Linked DNA regions of Homo sapiens. The protein of the gene in region 1 purifies or fractionates together with the protein of each later gene. This does not show direct contact. Each region holds a gene or a part of one and is shown on either strand. Other genes may lie near its edges.

Region 1 (6,876 bases):
ATTGGCTTTATTTTTGGGGGGTTAACTTTTTAATTTACCTCAAGTTGCAATCTGCTTGGGGGGAAAAGCTGAAACTTAAAACCAATTTAAGTTTCTAAATTTATAAAACATTGCTACCTTAGGAATCCACTGACAACAAGGCTTAATGTGAACAGAATTATACTGGAACACAGGCAAGGAACCAGAAAACTGAATTAGAAACTTTCTGAAAAGTCACGTACTGATTTTTGTACTATTATTTGTAAAGAAACTACTTACTGTAATTTCTCAAAGCAACCATGGCCTCATCTAACTTTTTCTCCTTTTTAAGAACTACATTTGCTCTCTGAACTACAAAAAAATCAAATTTCTATTCAAAGTTTCTAATACTAGTTTTCCCATTTCTAATGTGGACACTAGAGGCCCTGATGATTTTATAAACAACTATATAACATTAGTGACATCGGTGCTCCATACCTGATAGAAAAGCAGCTACAATTCCTTTTTTTTTTTTTTTTTTTTGAGACAGAGTTTCACTCACTACTCATGCTGTCTCCCAGGCTGGAGTGCAGTGGCGTGATCTCAGCTCACTGCAACCTCCATCTCCTGGGTTCAAGTGATTCTCGCAGCTCAGCCTCTTGAGTAGCTGGGGTTACAGGTGCCTGCAACCACATCTGGCTAATTTTTATATTTTCAGTAGAGACGGGGTTTCGCCCTGTTGGCCAGGCTGGTCTCAAACTCCTGGCCTCAAGCGATTTGCCCACCTTGGCCTCCCGAAGTGCTGGGATTACAGGTGTGAGCCACCATGCCCAGCCTCACAATTCCTTACACTACCTCTTTTTCATTGTTCCTCATCACTACAAAAAGGAGAGCAGGAAGGGTAAGATAGGAAAGCAGCATTTCTTTCTCTTCTGAAGTATAATTTTAAAAAGAGATTAACCCTGAAAATCATGGTTTTCTATGGTAATCAAGCTTTGTACATCAGAAAATAAAACATCCCATTATTAAACAAATATTTATTAACCGGCCCATAAAAATAATGAAGTTACTCACACTGAGTCCTAGTCCATTCTGTTTTTCTGATTTGCATAAGCAAAGGTCTAAGTTCTGGAGCCAACCCTTCAGAGGTCTTGAGAATGAATGATGGGTAAGTTTATTTGGACAACCAGAAGGACTTTTCATCACAACTGAAGCCATTTTATAATGTAGAAATTTCTTTTTCCTATTTTAAGTAAGGAAAGTCCATTCTTGAGAATATGTTGTCCAACAATTAAAACACTCTCAGGATTTGTTACTTGTTGGTGATTTATGCTGACTCCGCCTTCTGTTATCATTCGATACCTAAAAAATAGAAACGTTTAGTAAGTAGAGAGATCCAATCACTGTTGATCTGTCCCCCAAAAAAGACTGTTTCACTTAGATTTCAGAGGCTCTCCAATTGAGAAGATTTCATTTGGCACTGGACTGTTACCTTCATGTTTGCTCTATTATTAATAGATTCTGCCTCTCTTTACTGCTCTTTGTTTTTTGTTGTTTGTTTTTGAAACACATTCTTGCTCTGTAGCCCAGGCTGGCATGATCTCAGCTCACTGCAACCTCCGCCTCCTGTGTTCTAAGTGATTCTCCTGCCTCAGCCTCCAGAGTAGCTGCGATTACAGGTGCATGCCACCACACCTGGCTAATTTTGTATTTTTAGTAGAGATGGGTTTCGCCATGTTAGCCAGGCTGGTCTCAAACTCCCAACCTCAAGTGATCCACCTGCCTTGGCCTCCCAAAGTGCTGGGATTACAGGTGTGAACCACTGTGTCTGGCCGGAATTTACGCCTTGCAATCTGCTCTTTTAAAGACTCCGTCTCAAGAAAAAAAAAGAAAGACCTAGGAGAAGTTGTTCTAGGAGCACACTGGGTAGGTGAGGGCTGAACATTTCACTGAAAAAAGAGATACTTAAACTGGGAGTGAAGCTACCTTGACAATCAGGGCAGGAAACATGGGAGCAGCTAGAAAGAGGTGAGATCTGAGAAGACAGGGCTACAGCGTGGCTAGATCTTGGAAGTCCTTAAGAAAGAAAAATGGTGGTTTTCTCTCATCTGAATGTTACCAAATAAAATTAAGAAACCACTACTGGACATGGTTTTAAAGATATTTTTATACCTTTATTTTTGGGTAGAGACGGAGTCTCACTACGTCCTTGCCCACACAGATCTTGAACTCCTGGCCCCAAGCAATCCTCCCGCCCTCAGCCTCCCGAAGTGCTGGGATTACAAATGTGAGCCACCATACCTGGCCATGGACATGGTTTTATAAAACTCATCAGTAAAATATTTTCTACTTAAGGCCAGATTCCTTTCTTTTAGGAAGTATTATTTTACGCTGTCTGCTAGTTTCCAGATCATGTTCTATGTTTAATTTAAATGCACCAAACCTATTTAGCTTATATAATATTAAAAAAAAAAATCAGTATTACTTAGAGCCCTGGCTAAATCAGATGTGGTGTCATTTTTAGTAGTGGTAAAGCTTCCAGTATTAGCGAACACACTATAGTAAAGTTCAGAAGAAAACGAAATCTGCTTCCATAGTGAGGAAAATTATTTGTCTCGCTGACATACTACAGGGAAGTATATGACACCAGCCTCAAATTCACTGTGTGTTAAACCAGCAGATGAGGGAATCACTAAGGTGGAGTGGCAGGTGATGCAAAGGGAGACAATGGGTGCTTTTTCCAGGCAGAATAGTCTAGGACTCTTTAGGACACAGGCAAACAATCCAAGACAGTTGAAAGAGAACAACTATAACAAATGTCATTCATAATCATGGCCATGATATGGCCGATAACCATTTGACTTCTGTGTGAACTCCTGCAAAAGAGGCACCTGGGGGTCTTCTGGCTACCCAACACTTTTCCTTCCACCTCACTGTTCATTTAAAAATGGATAAGCATCAATTATATGCTGAATTATTTTTTGTGAAAAACCTTATTTACTCCTTAATACCTCATAACTGATTAATTAAAATATTCTACTCAATTCCTGAATAGAAAATGCAATTCTCAAGGGGATTATTATATAGTTTACAATAATAGTCTTATGACGTTAGTAGGTTAGTGCAAAAGTACTTGCGGTTTTGGCCATTATATGCTCATTTCATTTTCAGAAATTCAGTTAATACTATAGATAGGTTAGGTAACCTTTCCCATCCCCGAATATAAAAAGGATACAGACTATGAGAGGGGCTGTGTTAATCTGTTACATAGGGCCTCTGTTTCTGCATCCCTCTAAAACTGTGACCATATCCCTAAGCCGTACACTGATGCCAGTGTATTTACTGAACATGTCCCTCAAATGCACTTTTCCAGTGTTGGAGGAAAGACTGACTGGGTTAGATATAATAAGAGACAGTATAGGAGTACTGTACTATTATAGAAAATATAAAGTATTTTCAACAATAAGTACTCTCAGGCTATACTTTATTCTTGGACTAAACTAACTTTTCTAAGGAAGAGATGCCACTAAAGCACTATCAGGAAAACATCCTCTCTGGAAACACATGCTGTGAACTGTAACATTTTATTTATTTTTTGAGACAGAGTCTTGCTCTGTCACCCAGGCTGGAGTGCAGTGGTGGGATCTCCGCTCACTGCAAGCTCTGCCTCCCGGGTTGATGCCATTCTCCTGCCTCAGCCTCCCAAGTAGCTGGGACTACAGGCGCCTGCCACCATGCCCGGCTAATTTGTATTTTTAGTAGAGACAGGGTTTCACCGTGTTAGCCAGGATGGTCTCGATCTCCTGACCTCGTGATCTGCCCGCCTCGGCCTCCCAATGTGCTGTGATTACAGGCATGAGCCACTTCTCCTGGCCTTGTGAACTGTAACATTTAATGGTGAATTAACTGTAAATCTAAAAGTTAAATAATCTTACCCTCGGGGACCATCTGGAATGGCATTTGCTTTGCGGCAAGTATCTAGGACACTTGTTCCAGGATCGAGAAAAAATTCAGAAAATGGAGCTTCTTTAAACAACTCTTTTAACTCCTGATCAGACATGACCTCCAGTGCATCTATGCTACTGTGATAAAGGGCTTGTGTACACCTGAAAAACACATTTTAAGAGCTACATCATATAAATGTTTATTCAAATACATGTTCTAATACCCATTAACCAATTATAGAGTGTCCAAGTTCTAGACTAAAAGTTTTTTTTTGAGATGGAGTCTCGCTCTGTTGCCCCGGCTGGATTGCAATGGCATGATCTCGGCTCACAGCAACCTCTGCCTCCCGGGTTCAGGCGATTCTCCTGCCTCAGCCTCCTGAGTAGCTGGGATTACAGACGTGTGCCACCACGCCCAGCTAAGTTTTGTATTTTTAGTAGAGATGGGGGTTTCACCATGTTGGTCAGGCTGGTCTCGAACTCCTGACCTCGTGATCAGCCCACCTTGGCCTCCCAAAGTGCTGGGATTACAGGCGTGAGCCACCGCGCCCGGCATAGACTAAAAGTTTTTTAAACATCTATCTGGTATAATTCATAAACTTAATTCAAGATAATCCTTCTTTCCAATAAACAGGGGCTATTTTAAATTGCTAAGTCAAATACTGACAGTCCTTGTGATAAATGACAAGATAATCCTAAAACATACTCCTACTTTTCTCATGTCTATCCACTGAATAACTAACTATCAAGTGTTAATCATACTAAACTACTACCTTTTAGCAGAATCCAATCCTTCTCGTCCATGAACAAGCTTTGTTACTTCTGCTGCCAGTCGTTTCTGAGGACCCCGCCTTTCTGGCTCTTTGACATGCAGCTGCATGATATGATCAATCTCTGGAAGGGGCAGGAAAGTGAACAGCTTCAGGTACCTTTGAGACAAAAAATAAAGAGTTACACTTATATAACATACCTAATTTTTATCTCCAGCTCTTCTACCCTTTAAGGTTATCCTGCTTACTTTTAAATATGAAACAAACATACAGAAATGTACTGAACATAGTAGGTCCCATGCACACATCACCCAGATTTAAGGTGTTACTATTTTGGCATCTTTGTTTTCAATTTCTTTTTTTTTTTTTTGAGATGGGGGTCTTGCTGTTGCCCAGGCTGGAGTGCAGTGGCATGATCATGGCTCACTGTAACCTCAACCTCCTGGGCTCAAGCAATTCTACCACCTCTGCCTCCCAAGCAGCCGGGACCACAGGCTTGTGCCACCACGCCTGGCTAATTTTTATATTTTTTTTGTAAAGACGGGGTCTCCTGTGTTGCCCAGGCTGGTCTCAAACTCCTGGGCTCAAGTGATCCTCTTGTCTCAGCCTCCCAAAGTGTTGGGATTATGGGCAGGAGCCACCAAGCCCAGCCTCGTATTTTCTTTTTAAAAGGAACAAAATAGGCATAGATGAAGGCCGCAGTCCAATCACATTCCCTTCCTTGCCCCGAGATAATCATAAATCTAAGTTTATGTGCTGCCATCTTTCCCAAGCATGTTTTTATACTTTCATGTGCATGTGGCCATAAAAAAAAAGTACTGTGTAATTTTAAAAACTGATATAAATCATCATGCTCTGCATAATGATGTTTCTGTCAATGATGGACTACATATATCCGCGGTCCCCAACCTTTTTGGCACCACGAGGCGGCGGGGAGGGGAGGTGGTTTCAGAATGAAACTGTTCCACTTCAGATCATCAGGCATTTGTTGGATCCTCAAAAGGAATGCGCAACCTAGATCTCTTGCATGCGCAGTTCACAATAGGGTTTGTGCTCCTATGAGAATCTAATGCAACCGTGGATCTGACAGGAGATGGAGCCCAGGTGTAATGCTCGCTCGCCTGCCACTCAGCTCCTGTTGCGCAGCCCTGTTCCTAACAGGCCACGGACTGGTACAGTCCAACAGTGGTTCATAACATTATAATACCATAGTTTACTGTACTTTTTCTATGTTTACGTATACAAATACTTACCCTCGCGTTATCACTGCCTTCAGTATTTAGTACAGTAATGTGCTGTATGTGCTTCTACCCTGGGAGCAACAGGGTACACTGTATAGCCTAAGTGTGTAGTAGGCTATGCTATCTATGTTTGTGCAGGGACACTCTACGATATTTGCAATGATGAAATCACCTAACAACACACTTCCCAGAATGTATCCCTATTGTTAAGTGATATATGACTATAATATCATCCTATATGTATTCTCTTTTTCTTTGGTGAAATATATATAACACACAGAAAAAAGTACATTATTCACAAAGATATAGCTTAATGAATCATAAAACATCTATGTAACCATCACCATGGTCAAGAAATACAGTATTGGGCCGGGCGCAGTGGCTCACGTCTGTAATCAAATAGTGAGTTTGGCAGAGTTGCTAGATTTAAAGGTAATATATATAAAGTAATTGTATTTCTATACACCAGAACCAGATAGAAAATGCAATTTTTGAAAAGATTATCTAAATTCTCTAGGCCGGGTGCGGTAGCTCAAGCCTGTAATCCCAGCACTTTGGGAGGCTGAGGAAGGTGGATCACTTGAGGTCAGGAGTTCGAGACCAGCCTGGCCAACATGGCGAAACCCTGCCTCTACAAAAATACAAAAATTAGCTGGGCATGGTGGCGCATGCCTGTAGTCCTAGCTACTCAGGAGAATCACTTGAACCCAGGAGGCGGAGGTTGCAATGAGCCAAGATCATGCCACTACACTCTAGCCTGGGCAACAAAGTGAGACACTGCCTCAAAAAAAAAAAAAAAAAAAAAAAAAGATTATCAATTCTCAATACATCAAAACCCCAGGACTATATCGTCAAACATTCTAGGACTAAATCTAAAGAGAAAAAAACACAATTACCAAAATTTTGTAATAAGGCATGATAATCTTCCACTCTGTTCTTCAAAAACATCTTGGCCAATCTTAG
Region 2 (7,301 bases), on another chromosome or scaffold:
TTCCCACCTCAGCCTCCCAAGTAGCTGGGACCACAGGCAAGTACATCACACCCAGCTAATTTTTGTATTTTTTGTAGAGATGGAGTCTCCCTTTGTTGCCCAGGCTGGTCGCAAACTCCTGGGCTCAAGAGATCCTCCTGCCTTGGCCTCCCAAAGTGCTGGGATTACAGGTGTGAGCCACCACACCTGGCTAAGAAATTACTTCATTATCACTGAGTTTATACGTCAGAAGTGTACACTCTTAAAACATAAATGATTAACAAGCTAATCCTTCCTTCCTTACATTTGGCACCATTTCAGTGACATTAAACAGGACACTGACATTCTTGCTTTAGACTAAAAATGGCTCCCTCCATCCAATTTTAACCTTCTTCCAATACATCTTCCACTCATTCAGTGATCTAAAATACAAATTTGAGCACGTCAACCCATTGCTTAAAATTCTTCAACGGATTCCCATTGCCTACAGGATAAATGCATACTCCTTAGCTAGCCGTAAGAGGCTCTTTATGATTTGGTTCCTATTTTTCTGGCCTCTTGTTCTGCCCCTAAGCCTCTTGCCCCTCACTCCTCTCCTTTGATCGCCATGTACAAAACTTGTTCCCACCCACTCAAACATACAACTCCATCATTCTGTGCTTCAGCTACACCAAACTACTTTCAGCTCTTCAAATTTGCCAAACTTTTCCTCTGGGAACAGTAGGGCATGCAATCCTCTCTACTTGAAACACCATCCCCTTCACTATCATTCTGCTCATCAGTTTAGGTATCATCTACTGGGCCTGAATTCCAATTCTACCATGGACTAAATTCTCTTCCTTCCCCTTCCCTTCTCTCCTTCTTCAACTACCCAGGCTTTCTTTGTATATCTTGCATCTCTCCTCACTTTAGCTTCTTCACCACTACTCAACCCTGGGGATGGTAAATGTGGAAGGCTTTCATAAATTTCCATAGCAAAAGGAAGAAAATAGCTAACTTAAGGCCTCTAAATCATATAATATATATGCAGAAATAAATATAAAGGAAACTACCATTCCATTTGATAGTCTCTTTTAAGAAGGCTACATATCTATATCCCTTCATTCTTTCAAAATATTCTAAATCAAGTAAATGCATGTTTAAATCTCCTTTTTATTTTACCTGGGTCACCCTCAGCAAAGTCTGCACCAAAATAGTGTTCTGAGGGATTCCAAGCTTCACTATGGCGTGAAGACTGAACAGTAGGTACTTATACTGCATGATCTTGGCTTCTCTCATCATATGTTCACAGAGCTGATTAAATGCAGGGTGGCTAAACATCAGTCGTTTTTCAAAGCGCTTCTGGTCATCAGACAGTCTTTTGGCAATTGTCCACATTGCTGTGAAATAGTTGCTACTAGGAAATGTGGGCGCTTTTGAAAATGCATCTAACACATCACTCAGGGAATTACATTCCTCAGACAGTTTTCTACTGCTGATACGGTTTGGTTTTGTTTCCTTGGTAAGAACATCTTCATTGGAGACTTCATGATTAAGGTTTACTTTCTTCAATTCATCATCAGATTTATCAACAGGGACAAGAGACTGCTTTGAGTCAAAAAACAGTCTTTTAGCATAAAGTAGTCTTTCAATTCTAAGGGCTGTTAGAGTGCTTATGCCCTTTGTTTGAAAGCCAACATCTGATTTAAAAATGAATGCATCCTGAAAGAGATATCTAATGATATCAGTTGATTGCATTCTGTTATGAAAGTTATTTAAAATGTTCCAGTTTGAATGAACTATTTTTGGTTTGCAAAGTCCCAAACAACATAGCCTCATAGTTCTGCTTGTTGAAACTAATGTACTGAATTGTCTAAGGTTCCAGAAAAAGGAGCCCGCTTTGTTATTCATTTTGCTCTCCACTGAAACACTTCCAAATGGCTTCAAAGTTGTCAACATGAAACCAACGTCACTTCTACTAGTGAAAAAGAACACGTGCTGTCGTTTTCCTGTAGGGGAAGAAGTAATGAAAAGAATAAAAATTAAAACAAAACTTTTACTTAAAGAAATGAAATGCATTTAACAGAAGAGAAAATGGGGAACCTATGGAGCCATTAAACATTTACATAAAACAGTAAAAGTTTTTTTTACCAATGTGGGCTCCCTCCAATCTACCACAATGTGTCCAGTTTCAAAGAAGCCAGGTCACTTTGGAAGTAGTCATTGTATTAATGAGATTTTTCTGGTGCAAAAGCGTTCCATAAAGCTTTCTCTGTAGGAGAGACTTTTGTTGGCATTGTTATGGAAATGTCCTCGGTGAAAATTAGGGGATTAGCATTGATAGATCATTTTCTTTTCTCTTCTCTGTTTTTTTTTTTTTTTTTTTTTTTTTTGAGACAAAGTCTTGCTATGTCCCCCAGGCTAGAGTGCAGTGGCGCGATCTTGGCTCACTGCAACCTCCACCTCCCAGGTTCAAGCAATTCTCCTGTCTCAGCCTCCCAAGTAGCTGGGATTACAGGCGTATGCCACCACGCCCGGCTAATTTTTGTATTTTTTGTAAAGACGGAGTTTCACCATGTTGGCCAGGCTGGTCCTGAACTCCTGACCTCAGGTAATCCACCCGCCTCGGCCTCCCAAGGCGTGAGTCACCGCGCCCGGCTGATAGATCATTTTCAACATGACGATTTAGCAACGGCCGAACCCAGACCATCAAGAATAGGGACCTGGGCAGGTAGAACGGCTCAGTGGAAGAAGCAGAAAACGAAAGCGATGTCTGCACGTGGCCTGCGCTTAAGAGGAAGATCTTATACAACCAGCCAGCCTCACCAGACCCCAGAACCAACTTCAAGAGCCTGTCCTTCCGCAGCTGGGCCGCCCAGCATTAACCCACCTCCTTTAAACTTACTTCCAGGACAACTCGTGAGACTCTTCTCCTCGAAGTAAAAAGTCTAGGATGTGATACGGGCTGCCGCTAAGCCCAAGCTCGTCCTCCACTCACCTTAGAGCACAAGACCGTGACTACGTACAGGAGCAGCCATGACAGCTTCCCCGAGAAGCTGCGCTTCTCACGAGATCTTACGGATTCCCTCAAAGGTCAAAAAGCATATGTTCGCGGCTGTAGCTGAAGGACTTACTTGAAGAAAGTTTACCAAGGAGAATGACTAATTTCCCTGCATACAGGAGTGGGGCTCGGGGATACCACAGAGCTTATAAGGGCGATGTTTGATCGTGTATCGCAACGTAACCCATTCAGGTCCTAACTTTAAACACCTAACCTCTGCTGGGCGCCAGACTTTGTAGTGCGCCTGCGCCTTGCCCTTGGCTGCGTGGTTGCCAGGAAACCGCGAAGCCGCGGTCCCTGCCTCTGAGTCTCTCTCGACCATGGCCAAATTCGTCATCGCGGGTGAGTGATCCCCGCGTCCGCCCGCAGATTGCTCAAAACGCCGACAACAGCTCACCTCCCATGGCCGCTCGGCTTGGCAGCCTCTATACGGACCGCTCCATGCTTTGCTATAGATTTATTCAAAGTTTTTTACTGGACCGTGACGGTGCGCCAAGCATTGTGGGACACTGGGGATGCAATGGAGGGAAACATATCCCTGCCTTAGAGGAGCTTTCAGTCTCATGGGGCACAGAACATGTACTTTTGATACGGTGTGATTAACGCGATGAAGGAGACCTGCACAGGCCTCTGGGAGCGTAGACTCCTAATCTGGGTTTGGGGGATGAGGGAGAGGTGGACACAAGGAACTGGCTGGGGAAGGTATTACAGGAGCTGAGTTGTGAAGGTGTGAGCTGAGGAGGCTATTCCAAATAAAAGCAGAGAGGCAGGAAGCTTCCTGGCCTAACAGAAGATCTGGATATGTGGGGCGTGACAGGACCTGGGGCTACAACAGGAGCAGGAGCCAGGTCCTTGCATTTCATGTAGGTCAAGCAAAGGTGTTTGAACTGTATCCTGAAAGCAATGAGGAATTATAGAAAAATTTTAAGCAGGAGAGTAGTCTTAATGAGTTTGCATTTTAGGAAGCCTGTCTTGGCAGCAACGGAGAGAATGATTGAAAGTGCTGGTTGACAGCAAGGACTCAACTGAGAAGGCTTTTATTACAACAATCCATGGTACCTACCTCCTCTCCTCGTAAAGTTTCTTAAAAGAGTAGACTGCTCTTCCATCTCCAGTTCTGCCTTCCAATCAGTCTTGGAAGAAGGCTTCTACTTCTGCTTCCTGACAGAAACTGCTGTCACCAAAGTCACCACTGACTTTTATAGAAGCTGTTTAGTCTTTGACTTATTTGATCTCTTTGATGCATTGAACACAATTGACATCTACCATCCACAGGAGATTTTTTTTTTTTTTTGAGACAGGCTCTCACTTTGTCACCCAGGCTGGATTGCAGTGGTGCAATCGTGGCTCACAGCAGCTTTGACCTCCTGGGCTCAAGCGATCCTCCCACCTCAGCCTCCCAAGTAGCTGGGACTACAGGCATACACCAGCATGCCCAGCTAATTTTTGTATTTTTGTAGAGATGGGGTTTTGTCATGTTGCCCACGCTGGTCTTGAACTCCTACGCTCAAGTGATTTGCCCACCTTGACCTCCCAAAGTGCCAAGATTACAGGCATGCACCACCACACCTGGCCCAGAAGAATATTTTTGAACACTGACTAACCACATGGTGGGAAGTCAGTGGAAAACACACAGAGAATGTTGCATGTATGACACTGACAGGGCAGGGTTCTATAGGAACGATAGCAGGGACCTTACTTAATCAGGTAAGGGTTTCCCAGAGGGAGAGATTTTAAGCAGATACCTGAAAGATGATAATGAATTACCTAACAGAGAAGAGGTAGAAAGGAGGGGAGCAATTTAGGCATGGGTAACTGGGAGTGGGGTTAGAGCAAGGAGAACTAGTTTGGTGACAATTGAGAATATAAAATAAGTATAAAATTGAAATAAGTTTATTAGGACTGAAGCAAATAGTACAAGGAAGAGAATTTCATAAGGTGAGGCTAGAGTTAGATAATGTAGATTCTTTTGAGCCACATTCAGTAGTTTAGACTTTATCCAGAGTACATGAAAGGTTTTTAGAAGGGGAGGAGGGCCTAATCAAATCTGAATTTTATCTGAATGTTACGGCTATAGTGTGGGACAAAAAGACTGGATACCAAGAAACCAGTTAGGAGACTAGTGCTATAGTCCAGGAGGGAGTTGATTGTGACCTGGCCTAGAGTGGCAAACAATGGAGATGGAGAGAAGTGAATGGATTGGAGAGATATTAGGGAGGCAGAATCTATAGAACTGGATGTCTAATTGACTGGAGGAGGGCAGATAAGGGAGAAAAAGGAGTTAAACATTGTTCCCAAGCAGAGGTTTGAATAATTGCAGAGATTAGGAGTCACTGAAAAAAAAAAAAAAGCGGATGAGTAGGTTTAATACTCTGGATACTCTTACTACTCTTAGATAATTAGGGAGATGGACATAATAAATATAAGCGACTAAGCACATTTAGTAGGGGAATGGTGACAAAATACATCATAGACCTTCTGAGTGTCTATGAGACATTTTGAAGGAGATGGGAAAATACAGGAGGGTGTAGGCATCTAGATAAGGAGATCTGAGCTGGAAATATAGATTGCTACTTGAAGCCAAGGGAATGAAGCAGATTGGCCAAAAAGAATATGTAAGTTATAAAGACAAGATGCTTCTCAGAATGATACCTTTTAATGGGTTGATAAAGGAATGGAAACCTACAAAGGATAGAAAGGAGTGACCATAGAATAGGAGAACTGGGAGAATGCCCCCACTATAGCAGTGTTTCAAAAGCCTGGAAGGGGGCAGTGGTGGCAAATGCTGCCAAGGGTCAACAAGAAAAGGATCGGAAAGTATCTGCTGGATTTAGTGGCATGGAAGTCTTCAGTGACCTTCAAGAGAATTGTGGGGTCTGCTACATTGCAGTGGGTGAGAAATAAATGGAAGTGAAGAACTGAGGATGGCAAATATAGGGAACTCTTTCAAGATATTTTGATCAAAAAGGACATACGAAAGGCAATAGCTAGAGGGGGAGATGAGTTTTTTGTCTCTTAGGACAGGAGAAACATAATGTAATGAGTATATTTAAATATGACAGAAAGGGACTATTAGAAACAGATACAAGACTCTAGAAAGAGAGGATAATTAACTAAGCAAGGTTCCTATGAAGGCAGATGAGGATGGGATTCAGAGCATAAGTGGTGGGATTAGATTAGACAGGAGGTAGGACTCCTCTTCCATTGAAATGAAGAAAGGAGGAAAGGATGAGTCCAAGTACAGACAGGCATGTAGATGTGATGGACGAGGTTGGAGATTTTCCAAACTAATGCCATTTTGTTTTGTTTGGGTTGGTTTTTGTAAAGTAAAAAGCAAAGTTGTCTGTTGTGTTCTGATAATGCAGAGGAATGTTGGGGAGAAGGAAAAGATTTGGAGGAAGAGGAAAAAGACTGGAATAGTAATGAGGAGAACAGAAGAGAGTGCTGATAAGGGAAACAGAGGGATCTCCACGCAGGGTTGAGGGCCAATTAAAGCTGGTGACCATGAATTTTAAAGGTGCCCTCCGCTTGGTTCTACAATGTTTCTGTAGTGGTGGCTAGCAGGTAGGACCCAGCTACAGAAAAGGCAAGTAATTGAGTTCATCCAGGATAAGGGGCTTTTATCAGGCTCATTTCCCAAAAGGATAGTGGAGAAAGATAATTTAAGACATGGACCAGAAAGTGGTTTGAAGAGATGAACCATAGATTTGAACTAGACAGGGTGGCTGATAGACAGGGGTAGCTTCAGACAGGTTGGTAACTTAGGAGTTAAGTTATCTTAACTGAGGAAGAATGCTACAGAGAGGGCTCTGCATTTTTCCCCATCCCTCCTGCTCTATCAGATGCCCAATTCCATCTGTTGTAGTGGCTTTAACTTCCTGGGTGTTGATGGCTACAAATTGTGTGTCTGAAACCCTTACATGGCACCTGCACCCCATATATATGTATACATATACATATACATGTACATATACATATACATATATATCCAGCTACTTGCTGATCATATCCACTTAGACACACTACAAGTATCTCCAACTGCACTTGACTAAAGTTAAATTTCTCATTCATGATTTTTCTCTAGTTAAGGTCAGCATCATCTGCCCAAGCCGGAAAATAGAAGTTATCCCAGATTCTTCTTTCCCACCCCCACAACTTCCTGACACACATCAAATCCAAAAGTGACTTTACCACCACTCCTCACTTCAAACTTTACCTTTTGGTGGCCATTAGTGAGTAGTTCATTATCAGTACTAATTCATGCTGAATTAGTAGTAGTTAG
Region 3 (7,503 bases), on another chromosome or scaffold:
CTAATTTTTTTGTATTTTTAATAGAGATGGGGTTTCGCATGTTTACCAGGCTGGTCTTAAACTCCTGACCTCAGGTGATCCTCCTGCCTCAGCCTCCCAAAGTGCTGGCATTACAGGCGTGAGCCACCACACCCGGCTTTTTTTTTTTTTTTTTTTTGAGATGGAGTCTTGCTCTGTCCCCTAGGCTGGAGTGTAGTGGTATGATCTTGGCTCACTGCAACCTCCGCCTCCCAGGTTCAAGTGATTCTCCTGCCTCAGCCTCCCGAGTAGCTGGGACTACAGGCGCGTGCCACCACGCCGGGTTGATTTTTGTAATTTTTTTTTGTGTATATATATATATACACATATATATATACACGTATATATATATACACGTATATATATATATACATATATATATATACGTATATATATGTATGTGTATATATATATATACGTATGTATATATATATATATATATATATATATACGTATATATATATATAAAGAAAATGCTATATGGTTATTTTTCCAGTTTTGTAAAACCGTTTAATCATCTCTCCTCTTTCTCGGCTACCGAGTTGGGATAGAAGGCAGAACCTGAAAATGTACAAGCAAAACTTCTGTGTTCGTCTACCCTTTACTTTTCTGCCAGTACCTTCCAGAGATTTCGCCAAGACGCCCGTTTGTCTTGGGCATTGTTAGAGAGTAACTCTGTCTACTGCTAGTCACATTTCCTTTCCTTTCCTTTCCCTGGGGGCTTAATGGATACCTTTTTGGGGGCAGGAAATACAAACTAAATGTTTATAAATGAAAACATCAACTGAAAGAGCCTTTGTCCTAGATGTGGAGGTTTGGTGTATGAATCCTCAGAAACTACTGAATTCCGCCCCGGTGCTAATTATTCTTAGGGGAGGCACATAAAAACATCATTTATTGTTAGAAATCATGACATGATACAAAGTCAAAATCCACTTGTGTCTTGCTAAAGACTACAGAAAGCCATGCTCAGCAGCTTCTTCTCCAATGCTGGCCAGCAGCGTACCTTTCCAAGTCACAAAGCAGTTCATCCCGCCCTCAAGGAGCCGACAGGGCAGCCCAGAGCCTCCCACTGACAAGTGTGGTCACCCACTCAAGATACTGGGAAAGATCCCTGTTCTAGCATCACATTTTAATCAGATTTGTCAAAATCAGGTTGCTTGGGGCAAAGGCTCTTTCACCGAGGATGCTAGTCCTGGAAGACTTCTCCTTCGGCGAGCCGCCAGCTCAATCTTCTGAACCAGGCTCACATCCCAGGGATGGGTCACAAAACTGATGACGGTGCCTGGCACCTCGCTCCCCACACGGCCCACTCTCCCTGCTCTGTGGATGTAATCTTGCAGCGTTGGGGGGAAATCATAATTGACAACCAGCTCCACACCAGTGCTGTCCAGGCCCCGAGAGGCTATGTCTGTGCAGAGAAGTATGTCTCGGGAGCTCTTCTGGAAGGACTGGAAGATTCCTACCCTCATCAAGGCTGGCATTTGCCCCTGCAACCTTAGGTGTTGGATTTTGTGGTCATCCAGAATATATCCCAGCCAGTTCACAGTGCTGGAGCTATTACAGAACACCAGAACAGTTCCTGAGGGACCAGTCCTTTCTGCTCTGTCACGATGCTTGAGGATGTGCACCAGCTCGGCCACCTTATCTGCTCCCTTCAGTCTCAGAAATGTCTGTTTCACATGAGGCATGATACAGTGGAGCTTGGAGCTGGTGATGGTGGTGACAGCATCTGGGCTGGCGACTTTATTCAGCAACTGGCCTACACCTTCGGGAAATGTGGCTCCTACCAGCACTAACTGAGCTTTGGGATTGAAGGGGTCTTCCAAGTCAGCTGGGCCTTCTGCTATGTGGCTCTTCTCTAAGATGTAGTCCACCAGTTCCAGGAAGCTTTCATCCAGCAGTGTGTCTGCCTCATCCAACACCAAGAAGGAGAGTTGCTCCAGACTGATCAGTCGACTTTTCAGGGCCTTCCACAGAGCCCCTGGAGTGGCCACAAGCACATCTGCTGAAGGCTGTCTGGACAGCTGCAGCCTGATCCTACGCATGCCGTGGCCTCCCTCCAGGTCCCGCACCAGCAGGCCCAAGGAGCGGCCCAAGGGTTGGGCCACAGCCCGCACCTGTTGGGCCAATTCTCGGGAAGGAACAAGGACCAGGCCTCGGGGCGCGGGGATAGGAAGGGAGTCCAGGCTTGGCTGGCCCAAGAGCCGTTGAAGCAGCGGCAGGAGGTAGCTGAGAGTCTTGCCACTGCCGGTTTCTGCGGCGCAAACGACATGGCGGCCGCGAAGTAGTGAGGGGATGGTGCTAGACTGCACGGTTGTGGGCTGAACGACTTCAGGCGCAGCCTCCTGTAGTGCGTGCAGCACACGGGGCTCCAGGCCCAGGTCAGCAAAGCTGCCCTTAGACGAGAGCTTTCGCACCGCTGGCGCCTCCTGTTGCGCGCGCTCGATGGAGAAGTGGTCCCGACGCGCGCGTCGACTCTTCCAGCCTTGAGAGGCTAGCGGCGCGCGCTCCCAACGGCCCAGTGTGAGGCGCGCCGGCTGGTTCAACTCCGGCCGCCGCGCCGAAACCAGCAGCGGTCCGGGTCGAACCAGCACCGGCCTCGGGAGGTTCCGCCGCCTGCTCTGCCGCTGTTCCAACTGCCGCTGTAGAGCCACTGGGATGCGCACCACCGGCAGGGGTTCGTCGGGACTGCGGACCGTGAGGCCCCGTCGCGGCGCCAGGAGCAACCGAGTCACGAGGGAAAAGAGCCGCACCGGCCGCGTTAGAGCCATGTTTCCCTTAGTGCGGGAGAAGCGCACATCAGTGACGTCACGGACGCGCCGCGACCTCGCGTACGGTGGCTGGCGAGGCTCAGTACGGTGTGTGGAGCTGGAGCACCGTGAGGAAGAAGCGAGGTTCTTTTTAAGAGTTCAGCTGCGAGGTCTGTAGCTCCGAATAGGGGATGGCGACATCCAGACCCGGCCAGCCTTGGGGAAGGGCGCGTCGTGGAGGCAGGACTGGAGGCTGGCGATACGAGGCGGCAGTGGGGCCTTGACCCAATGGACCATGAGGGCGGAGGGCTTCTGGCGATTGGTTACCTGGTTCCTGGGATTCTCTTTAGTTGTTCCTCATTGCCCTGAGATAGCTTGTCCCGTGCTGGTATCCGAGGTTGCAGCTGTTTTCCCAGATGTGTTCCCTGCGCAGGGTCTGGTAATCCGTGTTTATTGAGAGTTTGAATGAATGATCAGGCCTAGGGGCCGAGACAGGGGTCTGAAGTCATAGATCTGGGCTCAACCCCTCACCCTCTCTGTCTGTGAGCCCAGAGTGCAAGCTGATGGCTTTCAGCTTCTTCTCTCTCTCAAGTGGGAGATAAGGTCTTCAGGTTTTATTTCAAGTTGGGTCATCTTTTCTTCACAGTTATTTTCCTTCCTTTTAAGCCAAGGTTCACTCTCTACTCCCTCGTCACGCGTCCCAACTTCTCATCCAGAACCCACCCCTCTTGCAGCCCGCTCAGCTCCACTGGCTTCCCCGTCAGAAACCTGAATTACCTAAAATAGTAGTAAGAAGGGTGCTGCGACCCTACAAAGTGATCAAGTACGTGGCTTATCATGTAGCCCTGGTCAGGCAGAATATTTTACCTGAATTCAGATATTCGGGTTGTAAAAACAAGAACTATACGAGTCACTTTTTTTTTTTTTTTTTCTGAGACACAGTCTCGTTCTGTCACCCAGGCTGGAGTGCAGTGGCGCAATCTCGGCTCACTGCAACCTCCACCTCCTGGGTTCAGGTGATTCTCCTGCCTCTGCCTCCCAAGTAGCTGAGACTACAGCCGTACACCACCCACGCCCGGCTAATTTTTTCTGTTTTTAGTAGAGACAGGGTTTCACTATGTAGGCCTGGCTGGTCTCGAACTCCTGGCCTCAAGCGATCTTCCCACCTCGGCCTCCCAAAGTGATGGGATTATAAGCGTGAGCCACCATGCCCAACAGATACTTCTTGAACAGATCTGGAAAATGGGTGTCAGATCTTTTCTGTAATTTGCAGTGCCTGGGGTGGGAGATAAGGTAAATATTTATGGATTAACTCTCTGGGAGGTTCGTAACATCTGGAGAAAACGTTTTAGTTTCATCAAATACCAATGAAAAGATAAAAACTTTGCTTTTTTTGGAATAGTATGAGGAAAAACTTTCACAATTTTAAGTACACTCTACCCTTGTGCTACACAATTAGACTTTCTGGAGAGTTACCAGATAAATCAGAGGAAGAGAGGCTTTTTTTCTCCACAAGAAAATATCTGGAAGTAGGAAGAGAAAGTTTTGAGTAGTGATGGGTGAATGAACAGTCATTGGATAGGGTAGTGGTTCTAAAACAAGGGTGATTTTGCCCTTTCCCTCCCACCATATTTGACAATGGCTGGATACTTTTTTTTTTTTTTTTTTTATAGACAGTCTCACTGTGTTGCCCAGGCTGGAGTACAGTGGTGCGATGTCAGCTCACTGCAGTCTCTGCCTTCTGGGTTCAAGGGATTCTCCTGCATCAGCCATCTGAGTAGCTGGGATTAGAGGTGTGCGCTACCACTCCCAGCTAATTTTTGTATTTTTAATAGAGACAGGGTTTCACTACGTTGGGCAGGCTGGTCTCAAACTCCTGACCTCATGATTTGCCCACCTTGGTCTCCCAAAGTGCTGAGATTACAGGTGTGAGCCGCTGTGCCCGGCCCAATTCTATGCTACTTTTATGATTCTTTCCAAACTCAGGGCTTCTCCTTATCCAAATAGTTCCTTGGGGCCAGGCTCATGCCTGTAATCCCAGCTACTCGGGAGGCTGAGGCAGGATAATCGTTTGAACCCGGGAGGCGGAGGTTGTTGCAGTGAGCCGAGATCGCACCATTGCACTCCAGCCTGGGCGACAGGGCGAGACTCTGTCTCAAAAAAAAAAAAAAAAGGTCCCTTGGATGTTTGTCCCAACAGGTTTCATCCATTTCCATGTGCCACTGTTTTTCAGATATCAAACAAAGAATTACTCTGTACAAAGCCAGAACACATATATCAAAGTAATCCTGAAGTATCAGAACAAAATAATAGGTATGTATATGCATTTGGGTTTTTGGGTTTTGTTCAAATATCCAGGGTAGGGTAGCTGGTTAATATATAGTTGTTTTCTCATTATGCTTGAGTCCTTACAATATGATTACCTCAAAATTTCACAGGAGTTAGAGCTTGCCTAAGCCTGTCTGTGTCCGTGGCCACTAATTTCTTCTTGTCACATCACTAGACACTGCCTACCTTTTTTCCCCCTCACTCACAGAGGACATTGATTAACTTCTAAATGTTTTCTGAGATATTTTTATAAGTAGTGCTTTAGAAATAGGAAAGGTATCCTTATTGTGAAAAAAAATCTAAGCTCCTGAGATCAGGAGCTTGGTGTGTTCCTTGGATCTCAGTTAATAATGGTATATTCATTCATTCATTCAATCATTCATTCAACAAATACTTCCTGAGCACCACGCATGTGCCAGGCATTGGTAGTGAGGAAAACAGCCAAAATCCCTGCCCTTGTGGAGTTTACATTCTGATTTAATTGATTTGGGTTAAGGCCTAGACAAGGTCTTGCTCTGTCACCCAGGCTAGACTTCAGTGGTGCCATCTCGACTCACTGTAACCTCTGCCTCCCAGGTTCAAGTGATTCTTCTGCCTCAGCCACCCCAGTAGGTGGGATTACAGGCACGTGCTACCAAACCCGGCTAATTTCTGTATTTTTAGTAGAGATGAGGTTTTGCCATTTTGACCAGGCTGATCTCGAACTCCTGACCTCAGTTGATCTGCCTGCCTTGGCCTCCCGAAGTGCTGGGATTACAGATGTGAGCCATTGTGCCCAGCCGAGAAATTGGTATTTTTAGAAACCTCTCCAGATGTAACTAGGCTTGAGAATCACAGTTATAAATGAAGCACTTTGGGAATTGCAAAGCATTACAGCAATAAAAAGTGCTATTGGTATTACTTTATTGTTCCTCCATTTTCCCACCTGTAGCAGGGCTGTGCGCAGGTAATCATATTTTCAGTCATTATCACTATAGTATTCCTGGACCCTTTGACCTTCCTTCTCATCCAGCTCCCTACCTGCTCTTTGTTTTTTACCCTCTGGTCTACCTTCTGTTTCCCGAGTGATGTTATTAAAGCACAGCTAGGCCTGGTGTGGTGGCTCACGCCTGTAATCCCAGCACTTTGAGAGGCCAAGGCGGGCAGATCACGAGGTCAGGAGTTCAAGACCAGTCTGGCAAACGTGGTGAAACCCTTTCTTTACAAAAATACAAAAATTAGCTGAGCATGGTGGCAGGCACCTGTAATCCCAGCTACTCGGGAGGCTGAAGTGGAAGAATTGCTTGAACCCGGGAGGCGGAGGTTGCAGTGACCTGAGATTGTGCCATTGCATTCCAGACTGGGTGATAGAGCAAGAGTCTATCTGAAAAAAAAAAAAAAAAAAAAAGCACAGCTATGGCCATGTTACCCTTTGACTCAAAAGCCATTCATGAATCCTTGTTGCCTGCAGATTATTTCCTAATCAGTATCCAGAATTGGGCTCAACCTCTTCTGTTGCTTTCTTATGTGAATCTTGTTCACTCAAGTGATGGCTCCATGCAAGTTGGCCAAAGGGCTTGTAGTCCTTTACTGGGTAAGCCAGAGATTGGAGTAGTCATTCGTCTCCTCTAAAACCAAACTTGAGTGATAACAAAGCACTTTAAATGCACTTTGGCTGGGATAGAGTTCTTCTGTGACTGAAGCATGGAGTGGATCATAGCTCTTGTTGCACTTGGTCCATTAACTTCTTGTTTTTTTTTTTTTTTGGAGATGGAGTTTTGCTCTTGTTGCCCAGGCTAGAGTGCAGTGGCATGATCTCAGCTTACTGTGACCTCCGCCTCCCGGGTTCAAGTGATTCTCTTGCCTCAGCCTCCCAAGTAGCTGGGATTACAGGCATGCGCCACCACACCCGGCTAATTTTGTATTTTTAGTAGAGACGTGGTTTCTCCATGTTGGTCAGGCTGGTCTGGTCTCAAACTCCCGACTTTAGGTAATCCGCCTGCCTTGGCCTCCCAAAGTGCTGGGATTACAGGCGTGAGCCACCTCACCCGGCTGCCATTAACTTCTTTTTACAGCAAACACTAAGCATCTACCATATGCCAGATTGTATGCTCTCTGATGAGGATCTGGTGATGAACAAGCCACAGTGCCTATTTTCACCTTACAGTGAAGAAGGCATATTGACAGATAGTTGCTCTTCTATTAATAGTTGCCAGGATAGCTCCATGCCAGGACAGGAATGAGCTCAGAGATGCCTTTACCCTGTTTTGGGAGATGTTGGTCAGAGAAGGCTTCCAGGAGGAGGTGATGAGGTTCTAAAAGTCTACAGGGAGTCAGCCAGGTGGAAGAATAGGGACGTGGCCCCTGGGCAGGGACAGCTTGTTCAGAGATCCCATACTGAGAGAGAGCAGGCCAGGCTGGGGAA

The links.
Region 2: the proteins of YARS2 (region 1) and FASTKD2 purify together in Homo sapiens (affinity purification with mass spectrometry; 2 studies listed by BioGRID and IntAct, with this or other methods). This does not show direct contact.
Region 3: the proteins of YARS2 (region 1) and DDX28 purify together in Homo sapiens (affinity purification with mass spectrometry; 2 studies listed by BioGRID and IntAct, with this or other methods). This does not show direct contact.

The regions. Positions count from the first base shown.
Region 1 is NC_000012.12:32,746,044-32,752,919, forward strand, and holds the end of YARS2 (tyrosine--tRNA ligase, mitochondrial precursor), read right to left. Parts: intron 4,832-6,876; coding exon 4,676-4,831; intron 4,065-4,675; coding exon 3,894-4,064; intron 1,321-3,893; coding exon 1,161-1,320; 3' UTR 501-1,160; downstream 1-500. UniProt on the Homo sapiens protein: Catalyzes the attachment of tyrosine to tRNA(Tyr) in a two-step reaction: tyrosine is first activated by ATP to form Tyr-AMP and then transferred to the acceptor end of tRNA(Tyr).
Region 2 is NC_000002.12:206,761,310-206,768,610, reverse strand, and holds the start of FASTKD2 (FAST kinase domain-containing protein 2, mitochondrial), read right to left. Parts: upstream 3,006-7,301; 5' UTR 2,864-3,005; exon of another isoform or gene 2,849-2,863; intron 1,968-2,848; 5' UTR 1,918-1,967; coding exon 1,141-1,917; intron 1-1,140. Other genes in the region: MDH1B (putative malate dehydrogenase 1B), read left to right, coding at 3,340-3,361. UniProt on the Homo sapiens protein: Plays an important role in assembly of the mitochondrial large ribosomal subunit.
Region 3 is NC_000016.10:68,020,411-68,027,913, forward strand, and holds DDX28 (probable ATP-dependent RNA helicase DDX28), read right to left. Parts: upstream 2,823-7,503; 5' UTR 2,793-2,822; coding exon 1,170-2,792; 3' UTR 506-1,169; downstream 1-505. UniProt on the Homo sapiens protein: Plays an essential role in facilitating the proper assembly of the mitochondrial large ribosomal subunit and its helicase activity is essential for this function. May be involved in RNA processing or transport. Has RNA and Mg(2+)-dependent ATPase activity.